Regions from separate parts of the Homo sapiens genome. Here region 1 is linked to region 2. The links come from fine-mapping of genetic effects on gene expression. A gene starts in region 2. The other region holds a variant in brackets. All regions are shown on one strand. Distances are from middle to middle.

Region 1 (2,500 bases), 150 kb after region 2:
GGGAAACTGACGCCCTGGCTGGTTCCTAACTTGCCCAAGGGCTCAGGACCCCGCCGCAGGCCTGGGCTCCTTCTGTCTTGAATCTGAAAACATCTGCCCCATTCTTTCCCCACCTGCTTGTTCACAGAGCGGTGGCCGGGGCCTGGTTTCCATCCACCCTGAAGGGACCTTTTAAAGACACTTGACAGCCCCGCCGCTTTCCTAAGCAGCCAACACCAGCGTGATCGAGCCTTTTCCCGGGGACTCAGGGCCTTTCTTTCATCACTGGGCTTTGTGCTGAAGTGTGGGCGCCCTCCCTCCTGGCTGTTGCCCTGGCTTGTCCGTACACTATGGGGCCTTCTCTCCTCTGCTGTCTGTGTGGGAGTGTGTGAGGGTTCCGGGGTCAGGAGGGGTGGGGGATTTGCTCACTGCAGAAAGCCTCCAGGTTGCTGTCTGCTCAGGCTGTCTCCTCCCTGTCTCTCTGTCTCCTCCCTGTCTCCCTGTCTCCTCCCTGTCTCTCTGTCTCCTCCCTGTCTCTCTGTCTCCTCCCTGTCTCCCTGTCTCCTCCCTGTCTCTCTGTCTCCTCCCTGTCTCTCTGTCCCCTCCCTGTCTCCTCCCTGTCTTCCTGTCTCCTCCCTGTCTCTCTGTCTCCTCCCTGTCTCCCTGTCTCTGTTCTTGTGCATGTGTCTCCCCCTCTGTCCCTCCATCCCCCTCTTTCTTCTCTGGCTCACCCCAGCCTCCTACCAGAGCACAAATGCCTGGGCCCCTGCCTGGCCGCCCCCACACTGCATCCATGCCCTCCGGGACCTCTGTCTCCTGCTCTTCTCTCCTGCTTTTCCTTCCTCTCCTGCTTTGCCTTGTCTGTGCTGTTCTCTTCCACTTCTGTCTTTCCATGGCGTGGTCTGGGAGACTCCTGTGGCTTTCACTGACCTTGCCTGGCAGTGGGATGCCCCGGTGAGATGGGTTC[G/A]GTTCCTTCTCTGGCCTTTGTACCAGCGCTGCTGTTCTGTCTCCTGTTCCGTTGGCAGTTCTGGTTCTCCAGAGGAACAAGGGCAGTGGACATCTGCGTTCTGGAGGAGCAGAGTGATGATCTAGTCTTATCAAAGCCACAGAACACAATTACGGGGCAACATAGCCTGGAAAGAGCCCAGGATGCGGGGACCCCAGGCTTCCCAGGCGGTGTCAGCACAGCCAGTCATGCAAGCTCCCAGGACCCTGTTTGTCCATCTAGTAAATGGGGAGAGATAATGGTTGGTGGTGATGGTGATGGTGATGATGATGATGATAATGACAATAATGACGGCAGCCACCATTTAGAGTCTGAGGAATCAGCCGAGGGTGTAATTAAAACATAGGTGCTCAGGCTGCCCCCTAACCACTGATCCAGACGCTCCGGGGACGGCCTGGGTTTGTATTTTAATGCTGCCCCCGCACCATTCCAGGCGCCTGGTCTGGAACCTGAGAGGGGGACCCGGCCCTGCCCTTAGGGACGCTCCCGCCCAGGAGTGCGGTTTGTGTTGGGACCTGGCTTCTTTCGTTTGCTTGCAGCAGTAGCTCCAGGGACTGTCTTTTGGTTGAGCTCGTTTTTCTGGAGCTCTCTTTCAGGCCAGATCCTGGCCACATCCCGGGGTTGTGACCCACGTGCCTTGGTTTCTTGCCAGGTCGTTTGCTAAGCCCCCGAAGCAGGTGCAGACGGTCTGCGAATGCATCCTCATCATGAAAGGGTACAAAGAGCTGAACTGGAAAACAGCCAAGGGCGTGATGTCCGACCCGAATTTCCTGCGGTCTCTGATGGAGATTGATTTTGATTCGATTACCCAGAGCCAAGTGAAAAACATCAAAGGTGAGTGTAGCCACGTGTGGGAATCGCCAGGGTGGATCTCGGTCTGGCATCTCAGGCTCTGGGACAGGGATGGAGGGCAAGGAGGCTTGTCGTGGGCAGGCCCTCCCCTTCTGGTCAGATGGTATCGGATGGAACAGGCAACTGATGGTCACCAGAGGAAAACAGCAGCCCCATGACGTGACCCAGGGAGAGTGGCTGGGGATGCGCGGCGGCAGCCGTGCCCACTGAGGGTTCGATTCGGCACTAGTCCTAGCTCTCCGTGTCAGGAAACAGGATCTTCTCATTGGAACCTAGCCCAGCCTTGTCTTCTGTGCATCTCACCCAGTGCTGTTCAGTGCACATGCAGAAGCCCAGAGCTAGTCTGACCTTGACTTCCCCCCTTTCTCCTCTTGTCAGTGTCAAGTCTTCTGGAGGTCCCTGGGGAGTGGGCATGGGGGTGGGCAGCATCACTGATGGCCAGCCTCTCCTCCATCTTTGGTTATAGGACTGAGTTCCCCTTGAGCTCAGTTCCTGACCCTGCCCAGTGCTCAGCCAGGCGGTGATAGTGTAATGGTGTTAGTCTTTGCGAAAAGCAATACAAGTTAACGCTGTGTTTGATGGTTTATTTAGACTCTTATCAAATGCTTTTTCTTAGCCCCTTAAAAACAAAAGCAATCTCAACACAAATGACCCCAACCACTA
Region 2 (2,994 bases):
CAGAGTTATCGCTCAGTTTTGTTTGTTAAGGCTTTTGCTAGAACCTATTATGTATCCAGTTTTTAAAACATACTTCATTCCCTTGATAGCAGAGATCCAGAGCACAGATGGCAAGTTGTGTGGATGATACTGAATATGTTTATTTTCCTAAAGATAAATGTCACGACACGACATTTCTCAGTTTTTATTTAGATGTTTATTACCATGTGTTAACAGAATCTTAAAACCCAAGGGATTTCTTCAGTAAACTAGACTTTGATTCAACCTGCTGGGCTGGAGACTGTAATTGCCGTGGTCAGTTAAGGAGTGCAAAGGGTGTTCTGTCTGATAGGATCTGGGTGAGCCCTGCGGACTTTCCAGCAGCGAAAGGACTTGGAACTCCTCTTTCGCTGAATGCTGCTCTGTTTCTGGAATGGATATTTTATAACAACATTCTGGTGTCAGCATCCCCTCAGCAGTTGTTTATTTAAAAATTTTTTTATTTTTTTTGAGACAGTGTCTCACTCTGTCACCTAGGCTGAAGTGCAGTGGTGCAGTCTCGGCTCACTGCAACCTCTGCCTCCTGGGTTTAAGCAATTCTCCTGCCCTAGCCTCCCGAGTAGCTGGGATTACAGGCGCCTGCCACAGTGCCCGGCTAATTTTTGTATTTTTAGTAGAGACAGGGTTTCACCATGTTGGCCAGGCTGGTCTCAAACTCCTGACCTCAGGTGATCTACCCACCTTGGCCTCCCAAAGTGCTGGGATTACAGGCGTGAGCCACCGCGCCTGGCCCTCTGCAGTTGTTTAATAAGGCACAGAATACCTGTAGCATAGGTCAGCCTTACGATGTCCATGAATTACATATTCAGACGTTTTAGAGCCTGATACATTTTGGAAAAGAAAAACAACTTCTACACCTATTCTACAGTCCGCATTTAAAACAATAAATTCCTCTATTAAAAACGTAAAGCCGGGTTTGCTTGCGTGCCACAGGGAATATATCCAGGAAGGTTATTATGAAGCTGTCAAATCAAGATGATGGGAATAAGGCAGTTTGAACGAACAGTCTTCCCACAGTCAGGCCATTTTTGCTGATTTGGTTTAGAATTTTCAGAAATACTTAGTACACTCCACCTGTTCTTTGATGGGAATATCTAAGAAGGCTAGGTAGGTTCTTAGGGTTAGCCTGAGTCATCTAGGGGCTCAACTCCTTGTGAGGGGAAATGACAGTGAACAAGTTAGTACTTTGCTCCACAAATGCATGAAAGGACAAATTTGCATCTTCTATCAGTATTTAACTTCCTTTTGCTAATGACAAATAAATATATCTATATTTTTAAACGTGGGTGTTTTGCTTTATTATGCTCTAGTTTGGCAAGAAAGCTAAAGAACTCTGCTCCTTCCCTGATTTTGTAGGCCATGAGGAACTCGTGCTTTCTCGGCTTATTTCCTCCTCGTCTGGCCTCTAATCCCGCCTCTGCCACCGCCGAGGTGCTGTGACCTTCGTCTCGCCAACTCTCTAGCCCCAGCTTCATCTGCAAGGTGGGCGGGCTGCTTGCAAACCGGTCGGCGTGGGGTGGGGTCGCACCCTCGGCTGCAGCGGCCCGAGGGCGGCTCCTGGCGGCGAGGGTCCCGCTCCGCATCCAGGGGCGTGCGCGCTGCCGGGGCCAGGGAGCAACCAGCCTACCTCGGCGGCCCGGGGGCCTGGTGCGCGCCTCCGAGATCCCGGGGCCGGGGCGTGGGCTGCGGCTCGCGGGTTCGGGATCGAGGGGCCGGGCGCGGGGCACTGCCGAGCTTGCAGCCCCCAGCGCCGGCGCCGTCGGCGGGGCGAGCTGCGGCCGTTTCCGGGGCGCCCATTGCTAGGGCCGCCGTTGCCACGGACGCCCGCCCTGCGCCCGGCTCCCTCTGCACTGCGCGGCGCCATGGACGACCTGCGGGTGCTGTGGATGCGCGACCGCGTGTATGCGGCTTTCGGCATCACCGACCCCCAGCTTTTCGAGGACCTGCTCAACCGCGACGACGGCCAGGGCGAGGACCTCATCTTGCACTTCCTCAACCAGGCGAGCGAGGAGGAGGGGCCCTCGGCGCTCTTCATCTACCGCACTATGGTGCCGGAGGAGGTGGAGGTGGAGATTGGTGAGCCTCGACGCGCCGCTCCCTTCCCCGGGCTTCCCTCCTGCCCGTCCCGGCCTCTCCGGCGGGCGCCGGGGCTGCTAGAGCCTGCCCATCGTCCGGCCCCGGCCTCAGGTGCTGTCCACAAACGCTGCCGCCCGCCACGTGCAGGCCCCGGGCGAACCCAGCAATCACAGCCGTCCCTGCCCTCCTGGGCCCACAGCCCACTTGAAAGTCAGGCCTTGATTGAAAAATCACAGCAAACACTGACTTAGCCCGCACCCCGTGCCAGGTGCGGTTCCAACGCTTGTATCAACTCCTTAACCCTACGAGGCGGGTGTATCCTCATCCCTATTTTACAGATGAGCAAACTGGCACGGAGGGGGTTAAGTAACCTGCCCAAGGCCCACGGGGCGTCAAGATCCACTGTGCAATAATCCGAACGGCTGGGTAGAGCCATGCCCAGGTGTGGCAGGGACCCAGGTCACTGTCACTCTCCTTGACGGTCGCAGCCTCTCACGGAGGGTCCGAAGAGCACCCCTTTCTACTTCTGGAGGCTCCTTATATCCTAAAAAGTAAAATAAGGCTAGGACAAAGTTTAAAAACTACAGTAGACTTTAAATGTTTATGTTGAACAAATTAGCATCGCAAATACAAAAAGACAGTGACCAGGGTCCCAGAACCCTCTGTGGAGGCGGATCCCCAGCCCCACCTACTCTCTGATAGGCCAGGGACACTGAGAGGGCAGGGAGGGGCCAGCACAGGTGAGAGGAGGAGGCAGGACAACTCGCTTCAGAAACAGCTAGAAGGAGACTGGGACCTCGAAAGCCGCCTCCTCGCAGGAGCACCAGCTGGAGCACAGCTACCGGGACCTCCTGCCTGGCTGTCCAGTCTCCTGGGCTA

Evidence for each region.
Region 1: its variant is fine-mapped to the expression of DNAH10 in fibroblasts (GTEx, PIP above 0.99).

The regions. Positions count from the first base shown.
Region 1 is chr12:123,907,624-123,910,123 of GRCh38, forward strand. It overlaps DNAH10 (dynein axonemal heavy chain 10), which reads left to right. Exons shown (of 79, transcript NM_001372106.1): 58 at 1,638-1,819. Among named protein-coding and RNA genes, the nearest start is that of DNAH10OS, 26 kb to the right of the region's middle. RefSeq lists an enhancer at 219-513. The variant G/A (reference allele first, on the strand shown) is at 947.
Region 2 is chr12:123,760,436-123,763,429 of GRCh38, forward strand. It overlaps DNAH10 (dynein axonemal heavy chain 10), which reads left to right and starts at 1,866. Exons shown (of 79, transcript NM_001372106.1): 1 at 1,866-2,115. The coding sequence starts at 1,902. It overlaps ATP6V0A2 (ATPase H+ transporting V0 subunit a2), which reads left to right. Exons shown (of 20, transcript NM_012463.4): 20 at 1-1,320. RefSeq lists a silencer at 1,447-1,866.